Regions from separate parts of the Homo sapiens genome. Here regions 1 and 2 are each linked to region 3. The links come from fine-mapping of genetic effects on gene expression. A gene starts in region 3. Each other region holds a variant in brackets. All regions are shown on one strand. Distances are between the middles of the regions. Region 1 overlaps CYP4F22 (cytochrome P450 family 4 subfamily F member 22). Region 2 overlaps CYP4F22 (cytochrome P450 family 4 subfamily F member 22). Region 3 holds the start of CYP4F22 (cytochrome P450 family 4 subfamily F member 22).

Evidence for each region. PIP is the estimated chance that this variant, and not a neighbour inherited with it, causes the effect.
Region 1: its variant is fine-mapped to the expression of CYP4F22 in whole blood (TOPMed, PIP above 0.99).
Region 2: its variant is fine-mapped to the expression of CYP4F22 in whole blood (TOPMed, PIP above 0.99).

The regions. Positions count from the first base shown.
Region 1 is chr19:15,540,050-15,548,229 of GRCh38, forward strand. It overlaps CYP4F22 (cytochrome P450 family 4 subfamily F member 22), which reads left to right. Exons shown (of 14, transcript NM_173483.4): 8 at 401-668; 9 at 3,922-3,988; 10 at 4,101-4,230; 11 at 8,059-8,180. Among named protein-coding and RNA genes, the nearest start is that of CYP4F22, 36 kb to the left of the region's middle. The variant C/T (reference allele first, on the strand shown) is at 3,189.
Region 2 is chr19:15,530,027-15,538,183 of GRCh38, forward strand. CYP4F22 (cytochrome P450 family 4 subfamily F member 22) reads left to right here. Exons shown (of 14, transcript NM_173483.4): 5 at 7,335-7,388; 6 at 7,509-7,636; 7 at 7,846-7,967. Among named protein-coding and RNA genes, the nearest start is that of CYP4F22, 26 kb to the left of the region's middle. The variant G/A (reference allele first, on the strand shown) is at 3,415.
Region 3 is chr19:15,503,656-15,511,835 of GRCh38, forward strand. CYP4F22 (cytochrome P450 family 4 subfamily F member 22) reads left to right here and starts at 4,870. Exons shown (of 14, transcript NM_173483.4): 1 at 4,870-4,928. RefSeq lists an enhancer at 4,514-5,014.

The DNA of each region.
Region 1 (8,180 bases), 36 kb after region 3:
CATGCTGAGGAGTGTAACCATTTAGTTTTAGTGATGCTACAATGACTATGCCTATGTTGAAAGTCTTTATCCCTCTTTGGGCCTGTTCAAAAATATACCCGAGACTGGGTGTGGTGGCTCAGACCTGTAACCCAGCACTTTGGGAGGCCAAGGCTGGAGGATCACTTGAGCTCACGAGTTCAAGGCTGCAGTGAGCTATGATTGTGCCACTGTACTGCAGCCTAGGTGACAGAGCAAGACCCTATCTAAAAAAATAAATAAATGAATTTAAAAATAGAGTTAATATAGGGCTTCTCTTTGTTATCTATTCAATGGGGACAGGAGGCTTATCTTAGCCAAGCCAGGGCTGTGCTATGCTAGGGGAAGGGGCTACACTCATGGATCCCCTTCTCCTTGGCAGGAAGATGAGTGATTATATCTCCGCTATCATTGAACTGAGCGCTCTGTCTGTCCGGCGCCAGTATCGCTTGCACCACTACCTCGACTTCATTTACTACCGCTCGGCGGATGGGCGGAGGTTCCGGCAGGCCTGTGACATGGTGCACCACTTCACCACTGAAGTCATCCAGGAACGGCGGCGGGCACTGCGTCAGCAGGGGGCCGAGGCCTGGCTTAAGGCCAAGCAGGGGAAGACCTTGGACTTTATTGATGTGCTGCTCCTGGCCAGGGTGAGGCTGGGCCCCCTGGAATTGCTGGCCTCCCGAGGGCTGGCCTCCCGAGGAATTGCATGTAAAATGATAAGTGTTAAAACTCCATTAGGCGTGGTGGCTCACACGTGTAATCCCAGCGCTTTGGGAGGCCAAGGCGGGAGGATCGCTTGAGCCCTGGAATTGGAGATCAGCCTGGGCAACACAGGGAGACCCTGTCTCTACAAAAAACAAATAAGTTGGGTGTGGTGCCGCATGCCTATGGTCCCAGCTACTTGGGAGGCTGAAGCAGGAGTCTGGCTTGAGCCCAGGAGTTGGAAGCTGCAGTGAGCTATGATGGTGCCACTGCACTCCAGCCTGGGCAACAGAAGCGAGACTCTGTCTCAAAACAAAACAAAACAATACACATGCTCAAAACAAAAAGAAATTCACATGGGTCTGGGATGGGGTCAGAACATGTAAGACTTACTGCGTGAGTTTTCTTGGGCTGCTATTACAAAGTACCACAAACTAAATGGCCTAAACATCAGCCATTTATTCTCTCACAGTTCTGGAAGCTAGAAGTCCAAGATCAAGGTATCTGCAGGGCTGGTTTCTTCTAAGGCCCATGAAGGATGAATCTGTTCCAGGCCTTGCTCCCTGGCTTGCAGAAGGCTGTCTTCTCCCTATGTCTGCGGATCATCTTCCCTCTGTGCCTGTCTCTGTCTTCGTCTCTTTGTATAAGGATTAGGGCCCTGCCCTAATGAGTTCATTTTGTCTTGATTACTTCTGCAAAGACCTCTCTCCAAACACGGTCATAGCCTGAGGTACTGGAAGTTAGGACTTATGAATTCTAGCGGAGGGGGGGTGGGCAGGGAACCATTCAGCTCATCACAATTGCAAAAATGAAATACATGACCTTGGGCTGGGCGTGGTGGCTCATACCTGTAATCCCAGCACTCTGGGAGGCCAAGGCAGGTGGATCACTTGAGGTCAGGAATTCGAGACCAGCCTGACCAACATGGAGAAACCCCATCTCTACTAAAAATACAAAATTAGCCGGGCGTGGTGGCACACACCTGTAATCCCAGCTACTCGGGAGGTTGAGGCAAAAGAATCACTTGAACCTGGGAGGCGGAGGTTGCGGTGAGCTGAGATCATGCCATTGCACTCAAGTGAAACTCCGTCTCAAAAAAAAAAAAAAAAAAGAAAAAAAAGAAATACATGACCTTGAAGAGATGAGACACTTCTATGGTCACTCATTGGTGTGTCTGTGGACCTTTTGGGTTCTGGATTCAAATAGTCCTGGATTCCAGTCCTGGCTCTGTCGCTTAGTGGATGTTTGACCTTAGTCATTGACTCTTCTTCCCAAGCCTCAGTTTCTCCATTTATACCATGGTGATCATAAAACCTGATCACAAGGTTGTCAGGCATCCAGTGGGATGCTTGGTGTTGGAGGCTGCTCAAGAAATATGAACTTCCTTCTTCTCCTCACTGTTGACTTTCTGTCCCTCTTTACATCTTTCTTTTCTTTTTTCTTGTTTTTTAAAAATGTAATTTAAAGTTCCAGGATAAGCCGGGCGCAGTGGCTCACCCCTGTAATCCCAGCACTTTGGGAAGCTGAGGTGGGAGGATCACCTGAGGTCAGGAGTTCAAGACGAGCCTGGCCAACATATTGAAACACCGTCTCTACTAAAAATAAAAAAAAAATATTAGCCGGGCGTGGTGGCATGCATCTGTAATCCCAGCTCCTCTGGAGGCTGAGGCAGGAGAATCGCTTGAACCCTGGAGGCAGAGGTTGTAGTGAGCCAAGATTGCGCCACTGCACTCCAATCTGGCAACAAGAGAGAAACTCCATCTCAAAAAATTTTTTTTTAAATTAAATGGAAAGTTCAAGGATACGTGTGTAGGGCGTGCAGGTTTGTTACGTAGGTAAACATGTGCCATGGTGGTTTACTGCACCTATCAACTCATCACCTAGGTATTAAGCCCTGCATGCATTTGCTATTTATCCTGATATTCTCCCTCCTCCTGCCACCCTGATAGGCCCCCCAAGTGTGTGTTGTTTCCCCCCTGTGTCCGTGTGTTTTCATTGTTCAGCTCCCACTTATAAGTGGGAACATGTGGTGTTTGGTTTTCTGTTCCTGCCTTAGGTTGCTAAGGATGATGGCTTCCAGCTCCATTCAGGTCCCTGCAAAGGACATAATCTTGTTCCTTTTTATGGCTGCATAATATTGCATGGTATATATGTACCACATTTTCTTTATCCAGTCTTTCATTGATGGGCATTTGGGTTGATTCCATGTCTTTGTTATTGTCAATAGTGCTGCAATGAACATATGTGTGCGTGTATCTTTATAATAGAATAATTTATATTCCTTTGGTTGTATACCCGGTAATGGGATTGCTGGGTCAAGTGGTATTTCTGGTTCTAGGTCTTTGAGGAATTGCCACATTGTCTTCCACAATGGTTGAACTAATTTACGTTCCCATCAACCTTGTAAAAGCGTTCCTATTTCTCCACAGCCTCACCAGCATCTCTCACTCAGGGTCTTGCTCTGT[C/T]ACACAGGCTGGGGTGCAGTGATGCGGTCATGGTTCACTGCAGCCTTGATCTCCTGGGCTTAATCCTCCTGCCTCAGCTTCACCAGTAGCTGGGACTACAGGCATGCATCACCACACCTGGCTGATTTTTTTTTTGTAGAAATGGGGTCTTACCATGTTGCCCAGGCTGGTCTTGAACGCCTAGGCTCAAGTGATCCTCCCACCTTAGCTGCCCAAAGTGTTGGGATTATAGGTGTGAGCCACCATGCTGGGCACTTTCCATCTTTATTAGACAAGTTGCATACTTCCATCTTCCTGGACTAGTTCCCCCCACAGCTTGGCTTAAGAGAGAGAGGGGAGCCAGGCGTGGTAGCTCATGTCTGTAATCCCAGCACTTTGGGAGGATGAGGCAGGTAGATCACTTGAGGCCACGAGTTCGAGACCGGCCTGGCCAATATGGCAAAATTGCATCTCTACTAAAAATACAAAAATTAGCTTGGAGTGGTGGCATGTGCCTGTAATCCCAGCTATTCAGGAGGCTGAGGCACGAGAATCACTTGAACCTGACAGTCGGAGGCTGCAGTTAGCCGAGATTGTGCCACCGCACTCCAGCCTGGGTGATAGAGCGAGACTCCATCTCAGAAAAAAAAAAAAAAAAAAAGATGGGGGCGGGGAGATATCTGAGTTTTGAGGAGCCCCTAGGATGCGGAGGGTGGGATGAAGTGGGCTGAGCACCCTCTACTGCCCATTCCAGGATGAAGATGGAAAGGAACTGTCAGACGAGGATATCCGAGCCGAAGCAGACACCTTCATGTTTGAGGGTGAGGATGTGGGGTGAGGCTGGAGGAGGGCAGGAAGGGACATCATTGTCTGTAGACAGCATCTCTGCTTTCTTCAGGCAGCCTCCATTCAGATACCCTCATCTCCCTGCAGGTCACGACACAACATCCAGTGGGATCTCTTGGATGCTGTTCAATTTGGCAAAGTATCCGGAATACCAGGAGAAATGCCGAGAAGAGATTCAGGAAGTCATGAAAGGCCGGGAGCTGGAGGAGCTGGAGTGGTGAGTGTGGGGTCAGGGGAATGGAGGGGGCAGGTTGAGGCCAGAGCCTTGGGTGTAAGCCTCTGCTCTCCCACTTACTGATTGTGTGACCTCAGACAAGCCACTTTAGCTTCCTGAATTGCAATTTCTTCAGCTACAAAATGGGGGTGGTTATAGTGCCTATGCCCACCTCATAATGCAGAAGTTCTCAAAGTGTCCTAGTCAGCAATTATTGCAATGATGCTGCATAATGAACAGCTCCCAAACTTAGTGGTTTACAGCAAGCATTTGTTTCTTGCTTTTGTATGCACACATTTCTTGCTCTTGTCTGCTCATTACTCTAATTGCTGTTGGACTTGGCTGAGTGGAGTGGAGTTGCTTCAAAACTAAGAGCTGGGTTCAGATCTGCTTCATATACTCCCTTTCTGTTCTCTTTGGACCAGAGGCTACCCTGGGTCGTATTCTTCTCAAGGCAGATTCCAGAAGCACAAAAAGCCATGAAATTTAAAAGCTTTGCTTGGGCCGGGTGGGGTGGCTCACGCCTGTAATCCCAGCATTTTGGGAGGCCGAGGTGGGTGGATCACCTGAGATCAGGAGTTCGAGATCAACCTGGCCAACATGGTGAAACCCCATCTCTACTAAAAATACAAAAATTAGCCAGGTACGGTCATGGGTGCCTGTAATCCCCCCTACTCGGGAGGCTGAGACAGGAGAATCACTTGAACCTGGGAGGTGGAGTTTGCAGTGAGCTGAGATTGCACCACTGCACTCCAGCCTGGGCTACAAGAGTGAAACTCTGTCCCCACCCCCCCACAAAAAAAGATAAAATAAGTAAATAAATAAAATAAAAAAAAAAAACAAAAGCTGTGCTTGCACTAGAAGATTGCATTGGCTAAAACAAGTCACGTGACCAAGCCCAGCATGAATGGGGCAGGACATATACTCCACTCACCTGAGCAGAAGGCACTGAAGAATCATATGACAAAGGGTACAGGTATATAATTCTAATTCAGGGAGGAAGTGGAGAATCAGAACACATACCCAGTCTCTACCAGATTCATGCTATGTAGAGCTGATTCTGGGTGATGAAAAGAAAACACAGCATTAGGCTGGGCGTGGTGGCTCATGCCTGTAATTCCAGCACTTTGGGAGGCCGAGGGGGGTGGATTGCTTGAGCTGAGGTGTTTGAGACCAGCCTGGGCAACATGACGAAACCCTGTCTCTACAAAAAAATACAAAAATTAGCTGGGTGGGGTGGCGCATGCCTATAGTCCCAGCTACTTGGGAGGCTGAGGTGGGAGGACTGCTTGAACCCAGGAGGTGGAGGCTGTGGTGAGTCAAGATTACGCCACTGCACTCCAGCCTGGGTGACAGAGTGAGACCCTGTCTCAAAAAAAAAAAAAAAAAAAAAAAGAAAAGAAAAGAAAAGAAAAGAAGAAAAACACAGCCGCAACATTAAATAGCATCAACTCACACAGTGAGGAGGTTCCTTTCGGTTCTATTTCAACCTTTTGCCTTATGGCCTCAGGGGGACATGCTCAGTGGGGTGCTACTGTGTCCTGAACACTTTGCTAATCTTCCTTTTAAACAAGTGGAGAAGATGTCTCAGGTTGAGAGAGTTGGGTGGGAGTTGGTGTGTAGACACAATTTAATAACACACTACTGCTTTCACAGTGGTGTTTGTATGGATGAATACCTTTATGCCAGGGATGCTGTTTGCCCTTTATAGCAACATGAAGTTTATTTTTTTTTAAGACACAGGCTGGAGTGCAGTGGCATAATCATAGCTCACTGCAGCCTCAAACTCCTGGGCTCAGGCAATCTTCCTGCCTCAGCCTCCTGAGTAGGTGGGACTATAGGAGTGTGCCACCACAACTGGCTAATTTTTAACATTTTTTTAAGAGATGGGGACTTGCTGTGTTGCCCAGGCTGCTCTCAAATCCCTGAGTGCAAGCAGTCCTCTTACTTTGGCCTCCCAAAGTGCTGGGATTATAGGTGTGAGCCACTGTGCCCAGCCATAAAGTTTCTTTGAAAGAGAACCTGGGCCAGGTGCAGTGGCTCATGCCTGTAATCCCAGCACTTTGGGAGGCTAAGGCGGGTGGATCACTTGAGGCCAGAAATTCAAGACCAACCTGGGCAACATGGTGAAACCCTGTCTCTACTAAAAATACAAAAATTAGCTGGGCGTATTGGTGTGTGCCTGTAATCCCAGCTGCTTGAGAAGCTGAGGCGTGAGAATTGCTTGAACCTGGGAAGCAGAGGTTGCAGTGAGCTGAGATTGTGCCACTGCACTCCTGCCTGGATGAAACAGCAAGACGCCATCAAAAAAGAAAGAGAACCTGCTAATTTAAAGAAACTAATCTAATCTAGAACATGAACCAAGAGTTATCATTAGCCCAATTTTGGGCCCTAAAGTCCAAGGGAAAAAATATTAAGTAAATGATATTATAAGGAGATAATGCACTTTTCTTTTCTTTCTTTTTTCTTTTTTTCTTTCTTTCTTTTTTTGAGATAGGCTCTCACACTGTGGCCCAGGCTGGAGTACAGTGGCATGATCATAGCTCACTACAGCCTCCTGAGTAGCTGGGACCACAGGTGTGTGCCATCATGCCCAGCTAATTTTTTAACTTTTGGTAGAGATGGGGTCTCTCTTTGTTGCCCAGGCTGGTCACGAACTCCTGGGCTCAAGTTATCCACTTGCTTCGGCCTCCCAAAGTGCTGGGATTACAGGTATGAGCCACCATGCCTGGCCTGCACCAGTTTTTTTTTTTTTTTTTTTTTTAAGACAAGAGTCTCACTCTGTCACCCAGGCTAGAGTGTAGTGGTGCAATCTCATCTCACTGCAACCTCCGCCTTCCGGGTTCAAGCAATTCTCTTGCCTCGGCCTCCCAAGTAGCTGAGACTACAGGTGCACGCCACCACACCCAGCTAATTTTTGTGTTTTTTAGTAAAGATGGGGTTTTGCTATGTTGGCCAGACTGATCTTGAACTCCTGACCTCAGACGATCGCCCATCTCAGCCTCTGCAAGTGCTGGGATTACAGGCGAGAGCCACCACACCTGTCCTGCAGCAGTTTTTTAAGTACAGAAATGGACCATATAAACTGGCATATTGCTGTTGCCGTGAGTCCCCTTGGCTGTCCTGGCACCTCGCCTAGGTGCCCCTGGACCTCCACATAATTCATCAATTAAAGGCTTAATGCTGGGCCCAGCAGAGGGCCCAGTGCTAGTGCTGTTCTGAGCGGTTGGTGCTCAGATACTTTGCATCCTAAGTATTAGTACTGGCCGGGCACTGTGGCTCACGTTTGTAATCCCAGCACTTTGGGAGGCCGAGGTGGGTGGATTGCCTGAGGTCAGGCGTTTGAGACCAGCCTGGCCAACATGGAGAAACCCTGTCTCTACTAAAAATACAAAAATTAGCCGGGTGTGGGTGCGCATGCCTGTAATCCCAGCTACTTGGGAGGCTGAGGCAAGAAAATTGCTTGAACCTGCAAGGCTGAGGTTGCAGTGACCCGAGATGCGCCACTATGTTCTAGCCTGGGCAACAAGAGCGAAACTCGGTCTTAAAAAAAAAAAAGAAAGAAAAAGGAAAAGAAAAAACAAAAAAACCACTAAATATTAGTACTTCCCACCTGTGCATGAGACAACTGCAAATGGCAGAAATTGGGGCAAGTCTAAAATCCTGGACTGGTTTCTTGCCCAGCTGCCCCTGAGAGAGAGAGAGAGAGAGAGAGAGAGGGAGAGAGTGTGTGTGTGTGTGTGTGTGTGTGTGTGTGTGTGTGTGTGTGTGTGTTTTGGGGAGGTGGTGCCATGGTGGCTCGGCCTCTAGTTATATCTCCATTCTCCCCAGGGACGATCTGACTCAGCTGCCCTTTACAACTATGTGCATTAAGGAGAGCCTGCGCCAGTACCCACCTGTCACTCTTGTCTCTCGCCAATGCACGGAGGACATCAAGCTCCCAGATGGGCGCA
Region 2 (8,157 bases), 26 kb after region 3:
AAGATGTGGCAATGACTAAGAGTTCCAGAAACTTCGAGGGAATGTCCATCCATCTGGCAGTCAGAGCCAGGCACGTTTGGATAGGCAGTTGTTCCTTATGGTTTTGTTAAGTAAGTGTTACTCAATCCCTGGCCGTGGCACGCCCATCATTTGGTTCTGACATTCCCATTATGGCCAGGACTCTTGGTGACTCAGCCTGCAGCCTGCTGTCATCACTTGGGCTGACTCTGACTGGCAGGGAGGGAGATGTGGAAGAATTCCTTCTTCCTCGTGCAGTCCACACCTATCCCAAGATGTGAGACTTCCAAGTCTGCTTGGCAAGCTCTTGCTCAGCCTTCAACACCCAGCTCCAATGGCCGCCTCCTCCAGGAATCTTTCCCTGGCTTCCCAGACAGACCTATTCTCAGTCCTAACCCTTTGGACCTGGGTATGTCTGTGTCCAGCTCTATCTTCCTCATGAGCGGGACTCTGGATCCTCAGTGTGGCCTTGTGTACCTGGTGTATTAGTCAGTTCTCACGCTGCTATGAAGGACTACCCTAGACTGGGTAATTTATAAAGGAAAGAGGTTTAATTGACTCACAGTTCCGCAGGGCTGGGGAGGCCTCAGAAAACTTACAATCATGGCGGAAGGGGAAGCAAACACGTCCTTCTTCACATGGCAGCAGGAAGGAGAAGTGCCAAGTAAAAGGGGGAAATTCGTTAAATCTCGTGAGAACTCATTCACTATCATGGGAACAGCAACATGGGGGTAACCGCCCCCATGATTCAATTACCCCCCACCGGATCCCTCGCATGACACATAGGGATTATCGGAATTATAATTCAAAATGAAATTTAGATGGGACACAGCCAAACCATATTACCTGGGCACCTCCAGAGGTATCGGGACATCTGAGAGAACTCACTCTCAAATGAACCAATGAGCTCCAGTAGGTCAGGCATGGTGGTTCACATCTGTAATCCCAACACTTTGGGAAGCTGAGGCAGGAGGGTTGCTTGAGGCCAGGAGTTTGAGACTAGCCTGGGCAACACAGCAAGACCCTGTCTCTCGAAAAAAATAAATAATTACCCAGTGGCAGTGATGTGCACCTGTAGTCTCGGCTACTTGGGTGGCTGAGATGGGAGGATCACTTGAGCTCAGGAGTTTAAGACCAGCCTGGGTAATCTAGCAAGACCCCATCTGTACAAAAGCATTTAAAAATATTAGCTGGGTGTTGTGGTGCATGCCTGCAGTCCCAGCTACTCAGGAGGCTGAGGTGAGAGGATTGCTTGAGCCCAGCAGATGGAGGCTGCAGTGAGCTATGATTGCACCACTGCTGTACTCCAGCCTGGGTGACAGAGCAAGGCTTAGTCTCTTAAAAAAAAAAAAAAAGTGGGAGATTCCAGGAATTTTAGGATCTCTGTCCCAGCTTTGCCTCTACAAACACGCATCTGGGGACCATCTCCAGGGCTGCCACCCAGGAGCTGTGAAAGAAGCTGCCATCTTCCCCTTCCACAGCTATTCCCTCTCAATGCCTTGTTGTCTCCCGTTATTACATTTGTGAAGGGATGACGATCCCTGTTGAACTAAGGGGAAAACCTAGACCTTGGGAGGGAGAATTGACTCTTCTGAGGGATGAATACCAACTTGTGGGAAGAGCCCTGGGCCAGGACTGAGGTGGGTTGGCTTCAAATTCTGGCCTTGGCACATGCTTGCTGTGAGACCCCAGCCATTTATCTAGCCTCTCTGGATCTCAGGTTTTGATCTGTAAAATGGGTGCAGTTGTGAAGCCTGAATAATATAATGTGGATAAGAGGCCACGTGCAGTGACTCATGCCTGCAGTCTCAGCACTTTGGGAGGCCACGGCAGGAGGATCACTTGAGCCCAGGAGTTCAAGACCAGCCTGGGCAACAGAGCAAGACTCTATCTTTACAAAAAATTTAAAAAATTAGCCAGGTGTGGTGGTGCGTGCCTATAGTCCCAGCTACTTAGGAGGCTGAGGTAGGAGGATTGCTTGAGTCCAAGAGGTTGAGGCTGCAGAGAGCTATGATTGTGCCATTGCATCCAGCATGGGCAACAGAGTGAGATTCTGTCTCTAAAAAAATTAAAAAAAAAATAATATGGATAGGCATTAGTAAGGGTTTCTCTTCTGCCTTTTTAATATATGTTTTTCTTTCTCTTTTCCTCCTTTCCTTTCTTCTTCCTCCCTCTTCTCCTCCTCCTTCTACTTCTCTCTCTACTCCTCTTTCCCCCTCCTCCCTTCTCTTCTTCTTTCTCTCCTCCTCCTTCTACTTCTTTCTTCTTCTCCTTCTCCTCCTTCTCCTTCTTCTCCTCCCCATCCCCCTCCTCCTCCTCCACCTTCTTCTTTTTCTTCCTCTTCTTTTTAGACAGAGTCTCACTCTGTCACCCAGGCTGGAGTGCAGTGGCATGATCTCAGCTCACTGCAACCTCTGCCTCCCGAGTTCAAGTGATTCTCCTGTCTCAGCCTCCCGAGTAGCTGAGACTACAAGTGTGCACCACCACACCTGGCTAATTTTTGTATTTTTTTTTTTCAGTAGAGACGGGGCTGCACCATATTGGCCAGGCTGGTCTTGAACTCCTGACCTTAAGTGATTCTCCTGCCTTGGCCTCTCAAAGTGCTGGGATTACAGGCGTGAGCTACAGCGCCTGGTCTCTCTTTTTTCTCCTTCCTCCTCCCTTCTCCTCCCCCTCAGAGCATCAGTTTCCTGAGCACCATCCTGCCTGGTTCTGAGACTCCAAACAGACCGAGGAGTAGTGCCCCAGCAGGGGCTGTCATGTAGTAGATGCTTAAGCCTCTTGCCCTCCCCTCATCCAGTGGAGGGAGGGGATATTCTGTGTACCCCATCAGAGAAGCCAGATAGGGAACTCCAGGATGGAAAAAAGGGTGGTGCTGTGAGTCAGCCTGGAGTGAGGCCTCTTGGCCCCAGGGTGCCCCCACCTGGAATTACACAGATCAGGCTCCAGTCACAGACACCACCCTGGATCAGGACCTCCTGGGGCCACACCTGGGAGTGGCTTGCTGTTCTGAGCTTGGAGCTGCACAGCCCTTGAGCCTGGAGGAGGGCCCAGCTCCTGTTGGAGCTTCAGTTTCCCCATCATCTTATGGGCCTTTGGACTAGGAAATTTTAATGAGAGAAAGTAGATAAACATGCTTTATAGAGAACATGATGATATATAGACATATAATTGTAGCTTGCTTTTATATCATCTTTTTAAAATGGAGGTGAAATTCATGTAACATATAATTAACCATTTACAAGTGAACAATCAGTGGTATTTAGTGTATTCACCATGTTGGGCAACCACCAGCATTTTCCAGTTTCAAAATTTTTAGTCACCTCATAAAAAAACTCTGTACCCATTGAGTAATCACTTCCCATTTCCCTCCTCCTCCCATCCGCTGGTAACCTC[G/A]AATCTGCTTTCTGTCTCTATGTATTTGCCTATTCTGGGTACATCATAGAAAGAGAACCACATAAAATGTGATCTTTTTGTGTCTGTTTTCTTTTACTCAGCATAATGTTTTTGAAGTTCATTCACGTTGTAGTAGGAATCAGTTTCATTCTTTTTTTTTTTTTTTTTTTTTTGAGACAGGGTCTTACCCTGTCACCCAGAGGCTGGAGTGCAGTGGTGTAGCCATAACTCATTACAGCCTTGAAATCCTGGGCTCGAGTGATTCTCCTCCTGCCTCAGCCTCCCGAGTAGCTGGAACTGCAGGCACGCACCACCATGCCCAGCTAATTTTTATTTTTATTTTTGTAGAGATGGGGTCTTGCTATGTTGTCCAGGTTGGTCATTAGGGCTGAATTCATTTCACTGTATGGATTTTTTTTTGTTTACCCATTCACCTTTTGGATGTTGTGAATCATGCTACTATGAACATATGTGTTCAAGTTTTGGGGTGGACATATGTTTTCATTTCTCTCTTGGGTAGATACCTAGGAGTAGAATTGCCAAGTCATATGGAATTCTGTACTTAACTTTTTAAGGAGCCACCTTGCTGTTTTCCACAGAGGGTGTGCATTAATTTTCTACTAACAGGAAACACAACTATTTATCTCACAAGTTCTTGATGCCAATAAATAATCATTTTAACCATAGTAATAAAAATAGCCAACAGTTGGTCAATTATTCATTTACCTACGCACGTATTTAATGAGCATCTACCATGTGCCAGGAACACAAGAGCTTGTTGAGTCTTATAGGGATGCCATGAGGCAAGATTGTTCTATTTTCTCCTTTGGCAGTGGTAACATGTCCAGGCTTACATATCTAGTTAGTGGCAGGGCTGGGATTTGAACTCAGACCTGGCTGGCCCAGAACCCAAGCTCTCAAACATAGTGATATGCAGCTTTCTGAGCATGAGTTTCTCCATGCTGGCACCATGTGGGGGTATTTCGTACACCGTCTCATCCATGGTAGGCATTACCATCTCTCCCTCTTTTTTTTTTTCTTTTTAAAAAACATTTTTGTAGAGACAGAGTCTTGCTGTGTTGCCCAGGCTGGTCTTGAACTTCTGGGCTCAAGTGATCCTCCTGCCTCTGCCTCCCAAAGTGCTAGGACTGCAGGTGTGAATCATTGCACCTGGCCTACCATCTCCTTTTTGCTGGAGGGGAAAACTGGTGAGGAGCGTGGACACAGACTTTCCTGGCATTGTGGTCAGAGTTGGAGTGGAAAAGGAACCTGAGGATGAGAGAACAATGGTTCAGCTGAGAAGGGGGTTTGGAGAAGGCTTCCTGGAGTAGGTGTCAGTGAAGCTGGGCCCCGAAGGATGCCTAGGAGCTTGCCAGAGAAGGAGTCCCAGATGGAAGGTCCTGCCAGTGCCTTGATGCAGATGTGTGAAAATTCCAGGGGAATTCAGGTGATTTAGGGTGGCTGGAGTGAAGGTGATATGTTGGGGGGAATAGGAAATGAGACTGACAGTTAAGCAGGAACTGGACAGCAAAGTGAATGAACTTGTACTTTATCCTGGGAGTGATAGGGAGCCACGGGAAGTATTTGAACAAGACAGCTATTGACCAGATCCTGGTGTCAGAAAGATCCCTGTGGAGCCTATCTTGGAGTCCAGAGTGCAGAGAGGAGAGGAGTGACTAGACTCCTGCTTTCCTCTTCAATGCTGCCTCCTCCAGGAAGCCTGCCCTGACTTCCAACAGCCCTTTTTCTGAGCCTTCCTTAGCACCTAGCACACTTTCTACCTTCTTGGTAATTGCATGGTGTGTCTCTGCTTCCCTTTCCTGCCCCACTCAGGAGCTCCTCCAGGGAGGGCATAGAGCTGAGCCATCTGTGGGTCCCCAGCATCACCCAGCTTGGGTTGGGCACAGAAAGGCAGCATAAGAGGTGTGATGAATGGGGGGATGAGTGGGCGGATGATTGTGTAGGCAATTGGCCAATTCCTAGGGATTGTGTCGGTGTAGGTGGCTGAGTCGCATTCAGGTAAAAGTGATATCACTCGAATTTCAGATACTTCCTTCCTGGGCCTCTGCCCATTCAGCCCCAAATCTGTTCAGTATATAGAAGGAGGATCCATCCATTCATCCATCCACTCATTCATTCATTCATCCATCCACCTTCCACCTATCCACTCATTCATCCATCCATCCACTCATCCATCCATCCACCATCCACCCATCCATCCATTCATCCATCCATCCATCCACCCACCCACCATCTATCCATCTGCTATTCATCCATCCACTTATTTATCCATCCATGTACTCATCTGTCCCTCTACTCATCCATCCACCCATTTATTCTTTCATTCATCCATCCTTGGATTGACTTATTTATTCATTTAATAAAAATTTATCTAGCACAACATATCAGTAATCAACACGAACCCTCCTGTTAAGGGGCTTGTAACTAAGTGGATACAATCCAGAGTGACTGCTGGGTCAGGGGTGGGGAGAAGCATTCAAGTTCTCATACAGGATGAGGGAAGAGTGTTTGGGGCAGAGAGAACAGCTGGTGGAAAGTCTCAGAGAAGAGAGAGCACGTGGTCTTTTTAAGGAGCTGAGAAAAGTTCTGTGGTGTGGCCGGGCATGGTGGCTTATGCCTGTAGTCCCAGCACTTTGGGAGGCTGAACTTGGAGGATCACTTGAGCTCAGGAGTTCAAGACCAGCCTGGGCAATATGGCGATACCCTGTCCATACACAAAATTAAAAAATTAGCCAGGCATGGTGGCGTATGCCTGTAGTCCCAGCTACTCGGGAGGCTGAGGTGGGAGGATCGCTTGAATCCAGGAATTGGAGGCAGCAGTGAGCTATGATCTCACCACACACCCCAGCCTGGGTGACAGAGTGAGACCCCATCTCAAAAAAACAAAAAACAAAAAGTTATGTGGTGTTAGTTCTGTGACGTCGAATAGGGGGTGGAAGACAGAGGTGTCTTGAGAGAGATTTGGACAAAGGCAAATGATTCAGGGCTTTGAAAATGGGCTGGTATGTGAGGGTGATGGGTGTGTGAGCAGGAAGGGGCGTGGTCAGATCTGATAGTCAGATGAGATTCTCCTGGGGCCATTCATGAGGGACACACTGGAGAGGGTGAGGCTGGAGGCTGGGAGCACAGGAGGTGTGATTCAGATGGCCTGAGCTGGCAGAAAATAAGGGGGTGGATTAGGGGAAGACTCAGGTGAAGAAGTCCATTCTGGATAGACAGCTCAACCTGGTCAAAGGTTCAGAGGTGATCCACAGCAGGCGATGAGAATAGGGTTATCTGGTGTATGTTGAAGGATGAGGTGGTGGGAGAGGCATACAGGGGCCAGATGGAATTGGGTTTCAATGCCAGGCTGAGCCTGAACTTTTTACAAGTGCAATGGGGAGCCATGGGAGGTGTCTGAGCAGGGGAGGCTCATGTTCAGATCAGTGTTTTATAAGGATTTTTTCTCGGGTAGGTGTGGAGGACGGACTGGGTGAATACAGTGGGAGGTTGGAGCCCAGTGAGGAGGACTAAGGAAGTCATAAGCAAAGGTCAAGGGTTGGAACTCTGTTTTGAGGCCAGGCACGATGGCTCGTGCTTGTAATCCCAGCACTTTGGGAGGCTGAGGTGGGTGGATCACTTGAGGTTAGGAGTTCGAGACCAGCCTGGCCAACATGGTGAAACTCTGTCTCTGCTAAAAATACAAACAAATTAGCCGGGCATGGTGGCGGACACCTGTAATCCCAGCTACTCAGGAGGCAGAGGCAGGAAAACTGCTTGAACCTGGGAGGCGGAGGTTGCAGTGAGTGGAGATCGCACCACTGCACTCCAGCCTGGATGACAGAGCAAGACTCCGTAAAAAAAAACAAAAAACCAAAAAACTCTGTTTTGAGTCACCATTTTCCCTTTGCCCTCCACAGCTGCCATCGCCCCCAAGGATGACCTCTTCTATGGCTTCCTAAAACCTTGGCTAGGTGAGTGCCCAGTGGGTAGGCTGGGGCTGGGGCTTTAGAGAAGAGAGGGAAGAGCATGGGGTTCCTTGGAAGGTTTCAGAGTAACAGGAGAGGTCCCTAACCTCAGTCTTCTGGGCCCAGGGGATGGGCTGCTGCTCAGCAAAGGTGACAAGTGGAGCCGGCACCGTCGCCTGCTGACACCCGCCTTCCACTTTGACATCCTGAAGCCTTACATGAAGATCTTCAACCAGAGCGCTGACATTATGCATGTGAGTCCTAAGGCTTTGAGGGAAGAGGGTGTCTTGGGAGTGAGGCTGGTCCAGGCTCCAACTCATGCATGGGCAAGCCATGTGATGTCAGGAGCCCTCACTGACTTTATCTATAAAATGAGCTTGTAGTGAAAACGCAGTCGGGTCCTTGTTAGGCTGACTCCCTCTCTGTGGTTTCCATGCACAGTCACCATGTATCTCTCTTCCAGGCTAAATGGCGGCATCTGGCAGAGGGCTCAGCGGTCTCCCTTGATATGTTTGAGCATATCAGCCTCATGACCCTGGACAGTCTTCAGAAATGTGTCTTCAGCTACAACAGCAACTGCCAAGAGTGAGTGTGACCCTTCTTGGGAAGATGGAGCCAGCTGCTCTAGGAGCAAGATGGTGGCAGGAGAAAGGGAACTCCCAGGCATTAGACAACTCTGGCCTATGGGAGCTCTGCCACGGATGGGCCATGTGCTTCCGGGAAACTGACCATCTCTCTGAGCTTCACTTTTTTTTTTAATCAAAAAAATGGGCAT
Region 3 (8,180 bases):
GCTACTTGAGAGGCTGAGGCACGAGAATTGTTTGAACCCAGGAGCCGGAGTTTGCAGTGAGTTGAGATCGCACCACTGCACTCCAGCCTGGGCAACAGGTGAGACTCTGTCTCAAAAAAAAAAAAAAAAAAAAAAAAAAATTGAGGTGAAATTCACATAACATAAAATTAACCCTTTAAAGTGTAGAATTCAGTGACATTTAGTGCATTCACAATGTTGTGCAACTATCACCTTTATCTAGTTCCAGTGTTTTTGTCACCCCAAAAGGAGGTCCTATAACCACTCCCCCTGGGTATGGGCTTCTCTCTCCATCCCCCCTCCCCCAGCCCCTGGCAACAACTACTCCACTTTCTGTCTCTGTGAATTCACTTAGTCTGAATATTTCATATAAATGTAATAATGCACTGTGTGACCTTTTGTGTCTGGTTTCTTTCACTCAGCACAATGTTTATGAGGCTCATCCACATTGCGGCATGGATCAGGGTTTTATTTATTTTTATTTGTATTTTTTTTTTCAGACGGAGTCTCACTCTGTCCCCCAGGCTGGAGTGCAGTGGTGCGATCTTGGCTCACTGCAATCTTTGCCTTCCGGGTTCAAGCGATTCTCCTGCCTCAGCCTCCCGAGTAGCTGGGATTACAGGTGCCCGCCACCGTGCCCAGATAATTTTTGTATTTTTAGTAGAGACAGGGTCTCACCATGTTGGCCAGGCTGGCTCAACCTCCTGACCTCAGGTGATCCACCTGCCTCGGCCTCCCAAAGTGCTGGGATTACAGGCAAGAGCCACCTCGCCCGGCCTTTATTCTTTTTTATGACTGAGTAATATTCCATTGTATGGATGGACCACAGTTTGTTTATCCATTCATCTGTTGGTGGAATTTGGGTTGTTTCCACCTTTGGCTATAATAAATCGTGCTATCCCGAGCACTCCTCTACAATTACGTGTGAGTAACTGTTTTCTTTTCTCTTTCTTTCTCTTTATCTCTCTCTCTCTCTCTCTCTCTCTCTCTCTCTCTCTGTCTCTTCTTTCTTTCTTTTTCTTTTTTTTTGAGACAGGGTCTCATTCTGTAGCCAGGCTGGCGTGAAGTGGTACAATCTCAGCTGACTGCAATCTCAGCCTCCCAGTCTCAAGCTGTCTATCCTCCCACCTCAGCCTCCCAAGTAGCTGGGACTATAGGTACGCACATCATGTCCAGCTAATTTTTTATATTTTGTAGAAATGAAGTCTTGCTATGTTGTTCCCCAGGCTAGTCTGGAACTCCTGGGCTTAAGTGATGCTCTCTTGCCTCAGCCTCCCAAAGTGCTGAGATGACAGCTGTAGACCACTGTACCTGGCAAGTACTTGTTTTCAGTTATTGTGTGTGTATACCTAGGAGTGGAATATCTGGGTCCTATGGTAATTCTGATTAGCTTTTTGAGAAATTCCCAAACTGTTTTCCACTGTGGCTGAACCATTTTACGTTGCCACCAGCAGGGTATGGCGAGATCCCTCTTCTTTTTATCTTTGACTCCCTGCCATGACCTGCCACATCCACTCCCAGACAGCTTTCTACTACCATTTCCCAAGTCCAGCCACAGCCTCCACTTCCTCCCCTCCCACTTCAACCTCACCCCACTGAGCCCTGGGCTGTGGCAGGCTGAGGGCTCTGGTGGCATGGGAACCACACAGCTCTAGAGCTTGGGTTCCTTGACGTCTAGGTGCCAGTGATGGTCCCTACTACCACTCTTCTCAAACTCCATCTCCAGCTCCAGCTCAGTGCTGCTGCCTGTCCTCTCTATAAATGTAGCTATTATCTCTGAGGTCAGGAGTTTGAGACCAGCCTGGCCAAAATGGCAAAACCCTGTCTCTACTAAAAATACAAAAATTAGCCGGGCGTGGTGGTGCAAGCCTGTAATCCCAGCTACTCAGGAGGCTGAGGCAGGAGAATTGCTTGAACCCGGGAGGTGGAGGTTGCAGTCAGCCAAGATAGCACCACTGCACTCTAGCCTGGGTGACAGAGCAAGACTCTGTTTGATTAAAAAATAAAATAAAAGGCCAGGCACGGCAGCTCATGCCTGTAATCCCAGCACTTTGGGAGGCCAAGGCAGGTGGATCACTTGAGGTCAGGAGTTTGAGACCAGCCTGGCCAATACGGCGAAACCCCGTCTCTACTAAAAATACAAAAATTAGCCGGGCTTGGTGGTGGGCACCTGTAGTCTCAGCTACTCGGGAGGCTGAGGCAGGAGAATCGCTTGACCCCGGGAGGCGGAGGTTACAGTGAGCCAAGATTGTGCCACTGTATCCAGCCTGGACAACAGAGCAACAGAGTGAGACTCCATCTTAAAAAAAAAAAAAAAGTGGCTGTGATCCCCACTTCTGCCCTCCCCTCCTCTTCTCTGCCCACCTCCCTCCTGAGTGATCTCGCTGACCTACTGCCATGCCATCCACCGTCTTCCCAAGGCAGGTGACTCACAGATGCAATTCTCAGGAGGTGCCCTCACGCTGAGCCCAACTGCCTCCTGGATGTCTCCCTGAATGTCATCCCATGAGACCCACGAGACTTTTAGACTGAAGGTGACCCACGGTTTCCCAATCTTAGCACTGTCAACATTTGAGCCTGGATTATTCTTTGGGGGTGGGGGTGTTCTGGATGTTGAATAATATCTCTGGCCTTCACCCACTAGATGTCAGTTGCACCACCCTGAATTCCCCCACCCCCACCTCTACCCCCCACCCAGCAGTATGATCTCCTGATGTTGCTAAACATTCCCTGGCGGAAAACTCTACTCTGCTGGGATGGCCCCAATCAACTGCAAACTCAAACAGCTGATGTTTGTCCAGCCTGTGCCCTGTGCCAGGAGTGGGGCTGAACACCACCTCATCACATGGGCTTCTTCTGCATTTTATGCATAGGGAGATGGAGGCTCAGAGCAGCCATGTGACTAGCTCAAGGCCACACATCCACGAAGCCCACTCTTAGTGCTCCAGGCCCTTTCACTTACTCCTCCTTCCTGGTCTCCAGCTCTTTGAGAGCAGAGAAGCCAGGCAGATGGCTTCTTTTCCTTCTCTCTTCCCTAGAACCCCGTATTTAGCCAGTGGTCAGTGGAGATGACCTCCGGGACCTCATCCTTAACCCCTTCCTGGGTCTCAGCTACCCCCACCCTTTGTCTCTGTCCCCTGCAGCCACTGGAGGGGTCCCTCTCAAACTTCACTCTATGTGGATCTCTGCATTTTCCAAAGTGCTTCTAGTAAGCTCCCCCTTGGCCAGAATTACTGGCAAAACAAAATTCATATCCCTAAAAAATAGGCTTTCATGCTGCGTTAATTATGAATAAAAAATTAATAAAATAAGCTCTTCCTCAGAAGTAAAAAAGATTAAAGACACAAATAAATATAAATATTTTTTTTTAAAAGTTCTAGGAGCTGGGAGAATGGCTTGAGCCCAGGAGTTTGAGACCAGCCTGGGCAACATAGTGAGACCCTGTCTCTAAAAAAATGAAAAAAAAAAATTAGCTGGGTGTGGTGGCACGTGTCTGTAGTCCCAACTACCCAGGAGGCTGAGGCAGGAGGATGGCTTGAGCCCAGGAGTCACCCCAGCCTGGATGACAGAGTGAGACCAATCAACTAACAGGGGGCACCTCCCCTACTCAAGCACCATCCATGGCTCCCCACTGCCCACCAGATCAAGATCCAGCCATTCAAACTGGCCTTCACAGTCAACTCCTGCATCCCTCCAGCCTCCACACCTCTCACACTCCAAGGCCAGGGAAAGCCATCTGCTAAGTCACACCCTCCAGTTTCTCTGTGCTTGAGCTCTACCCCCTCTCCTGCACTTGTTGAAATCCAACCTCTCCATGCAGTCCCAGCTCAAGTGTCACATCCTCCACGTCGCCTTCCCTGACCTCATGTCTGCCTCCTCCAAGCAGCAAAACTTCAATTACTTGTGTCTCCTCTTCTTCACCAGGAGACATGCCCCACACCTCCCACGCCCTCTTTCCAAGGGCCCAGCACCAAATGAGAGCGTATTCTTAGAAAAAAGAGGGATAAGGAAGTCTTCTAAGTTTACCACCTGCTGGGGCAAGTGGAGATTCTTGTCTTCTCATCTGTCTGCCCACGTGCTAAGGTCAGCCACACATCCACCCACCGACTCCGGAGGACAGACACATCCAGAGGCGGAGCTGACTCTGTCTCCACACATCTGGAGTAGACGGGTTGGCCAAGGACAACATCCTGGTCAGAGGGTCAAGGTGTCTGGCAGTGGGTGGGGAGGAGTGGCGGAGGGCGGGTTGGCGGGGAGCAGAACCAGTCTGGTGCTGCTTGTTGAGGTTGGAGGTCTTCCTGGAGGAAGAGGCTGCAGAGCCTCCAGGGGTGGGTGCCGGGGAAGCTTAGGCCCAGGATCCAGAGAGAGGGGAAGGGCTGGTTCCCAAGGGCTGGTGGAGCCAGAGAATTCCTGAGGGCCCCAGAGGAGGCTTCTCGGGGGGGTCAGTGGGGCCCCAGGGGGTGATGGTTTAGAGATCGCTGTCCAAGCTTGGGAGCAAACCTGGAAGTAAGGGCCATGGGGGGTGTTGGTGTGGGAGGAGTGTGGTCCAGAGCGGGACTTGGGCGCTAATGCGGCCCAGCAGTGGCAGGAGGGCGGGGAGCCTGATGGTTTGGGACTTCTAGGTGTCCAAGTCTCTGTCTCTCTTCATCTCTCCATCTCAGTCTCAGTCTCTCTCTCTTTCCATCGCTCTCCACCCCTCCACACGCCTATTTCTTGTTCTCTCCTTTTCTAGGGGGCAGCGCTGGAGTCCCCGCCCAGAACCCTGCGGGAGCCCGGGGCGGGATGTCCGGGGGCGGACCCCTCGGCACGGCCGGGCGGGGTTAAAGGGTTGGGCCGTGGGACGGCGCGGTCAGATCCCAGGTAGTGGCGCCGGTGGATCCGGATCGAGGGCAGGAGGCTGAGACCCGCGGGTGAGTGCGCGCGTGGTGAGGGCTGTAACCTGAGCGCGGCCGCGGCGCTGCGCTGGAACCCGAGGCTCGCGCGGTTCGGTGCTGGCGGGGCAAGGGCGAAGGTCTGCGCGCGGCGGCGGGCGGGGCGCAGCCGGCCACGGGGACCCCCCCAGGACCCAGGACGGGGCTGCATGCCCGGGGCACTCGTGGGGAGAGGGGCACGTGGGTGTGTCCCCGACGTTTGCTGCATTTGTGAGTTGTTTTCTTTTTTTTTTTTTCTGTGTGCGCCTCGGAGTCCTAGGCGCATCCTTTTCTCTGGGTATCTGTGATGGGCAGGGGGCCTCCAAAAGACCCCTCTGGTAGTCAGGACATCCCAGATGGGTTCAAGCCCCGCCCTGGGACGCCTCTTTGGGGCTGAATGGGGATTCGCCCTGAGATTTCACCACTGCACGTTGTCTTGACGGGGAGGTTGTAGTACATTCAACCGATGGGGTTAGGCTTGTGGTTCAACTGCTATCAGGAACCCTCTGCCCATCCATGCCAGACGCAGAGCCCCTCTATGAAAAGACGGTGTTCTTCTGGCCCCGAGAGTTGGCTCTGAGGGTTGTGTGAGGTCCTGGGGTTGGTCCCAGGTGATCTTCGTCTGATAGATGCTGGAAGGAAGATGTTTTCTGGCCTCCCAGGGGCCTGGCCCAGCCTGGGTATGCAAGTTGGCCGAGGCTGGCCACCTGGGGAGTCGCAGGCTGGAGAGGCCTAGGCTCAGGGCATCTCTCCTGGTTCATCTGCCCGCTCACAGCTCATTCATGCACTCATTGTGAGTCTCACCGCCCTGTAGGCAAAGGAGATGGCCAGGGCTGGCTGCGTACCCGAAATTCCTCCTACCCTGTGCCCCTTGCTCCACCCCTTATTTCTAGGTCCTGGAGCTGTGCCCAGCCAGGGCTGGCAGCATCAAACTCCTTCTTGTGTAACTCCAAACCCCAAAGAGAAGGAACCTCCCCAAATCTTCCCTACCACCCTCATTTTACAGGCACGGAAACTGAGGGCCAGAGAGAAGAAGCCTGTGCCTGTGGATACCCAGTGCCCAGTGGGAGAGCTGGGATTTGAAAAAACAAGCCCTGTTTGACCCCAAAGCCTCAGTCCACTTTCCGATGTCCCCGGCATCACCAAATGGCCCAGCTTGGGTTTCTGAACAGTAACATTAACTCTGGCCTGGTGTCTGGCGGTGACCCAGGTTGGTATCTGCAGAGGGGCTTGGATGACTTGAGAGGCATTCAGGGAATGGGACCCATCTCTCCTTCCTTCCTTCCTTCCTTCCTTCCTTCCTTCCTTCCTTCCTTCCTTCCTTTCTTTCTTTCCTTCCTTCTTTCTTTCTTTCTTTCTTTCTTTTCTCTGTCTCTCTCTCTTTCTTTCTTTCTTTCTTTTTTTGTTGTTGTTGTTGAGACAGGGTCTCACTTTGTCACCCAGGCAGGAGTGCAGTGGCATAATCATAGCTCACTGCAGCCTCGATCTCCTGGGTTCAAGCAATCCTCCTACCTCAGCCTCCTGAGTATGGAGGACTACAGGCATGCACCACCACTCCTGTCTACTTTTTGTATTTTTGGTAGGGATGGGGTTTCACCATGTTGCCCAGGCTGGTCTTGAACTCTTGGGCTCAAGTGATCCACCCGCCTCAGCCTCCCAAAGTGCTGGGATTACAGGCATGAGCCACTGCGCCTGACTCATCTCTCCTTGTTGATAAAACTTGGACCTGATTCTCCAAACCCCAGATGGCCAGGTCACAATAATGAACGTGATGGCAGCACCAACGGTAATGAGAGATATCATTGATCAAAGGCTTACTATGTGCCTGGAAGATTGCAGCCCCATGAGGTGGGTAAATAGGGCTTCTGTCTTAATGGATGAAGAAATTGAGGCTCAGAGAGGTGCAGACACTCACCCGAGGTCGCACAGCAAAGAGGCAGACCTTTATAGAATCTTTTCTGAGGCTCATGTCCAGGTGTGGCCACACTTGGGATGGTGGGCAGAAACAATTACAACCCTGCAATGGTCTAGATTATTAGTGGTTTTAAAACTTCTTTTTCTGCCAGGATCCCCTTTGGGCCAAGGAAATTATTAGCAAAAGGTTTGAATATGATCAAAGCTGCGATAGGACTGTCTCCTTTACCACATTTGCCAACTTGGCCCTGCCCTCATTAGTCATAAATGACTCTGAAGCTCTTTCTCAGAACCTTAGAAATTTAGAGTGCTGAGTGGAGACTGAAGACCTAGAAGCCAGGCTGAGTGTGGTGGCTCATGCCTGTAATCCCAGCACTTTGGGAGGCTAAGGCTGGAGGATGGTTTGAGCCCAGGACTTTGAGACCAGCCTGGGGAATATAGGGATACCATATATATATATATATATATATTTTTTTTTTTTTTTTTGAGATGGAGTTTTGCTCTTGTTGCCCAGGCTGGAGTGTAATGGCGTGATCTTGGCTCACTGCAACCCCTGCCTCCCGGGTTCAAGCTGTTCTCTTGCCTCAGCCTCCTGAGTAGCTGAGACTACAGGCATGTGCCACCATGCCTGGCTAATTTTGTATTTTTAGTAGAGATGGGGTTTCTCCATGTTGGTCAGGCTGGTCTCGAACTCCCGACCTCAGGTGATCCTCCCTCCTCCCAAAGTGCTGAGATTACAGGCATGATTACAGGCATGAGCCACCGCGCCCAGCACTATATTAATTTTTTTTAACAAAAAAATTAAAAAAAAATTAGCTGAGCATGGTGGCAGGCGCCTGTAGTCCCAGCTACTCAGGATGCTGAGGTGGGAGGATCACTCAAGCCCAGGACGGGGAGGTTGCAGTGAGCCAAGATCACACCACTGCACTCCAGCCTGAAGGACACAGCAAGACCATGTCTAAAAAACAAAACAAACAAACAACAACAACAACAAAACAACTTAGAAGTCCCCTCTCAGCTCCAGCCTTCTGGGGTCTGGCACTTTGGGGGAATATGTGAGTCTCTGGGGTAAGCCAGCCCTCTGATGTTGAGGAAGCCAAGGTGGCACCATGAATCAGTGGGGACGGGGGCAGGCTGCCTTGACTACAGGCTTGGAGTGAAAAGGAGGGCTGGGATTTGGGGTGATGGGGCCAGCGTTGGGGTGCTCTTCCATCAGGCTCCTGGCTGGTCCCAGCCCCTGCAGTTCAAGAAGAGGCATGTATCTCGTACCTGGCGTCGGCCTGGGTCCGTGCCCTCCACTCCTTCTTGGGAGCCCACACACCTTGTATAACAAGTCCT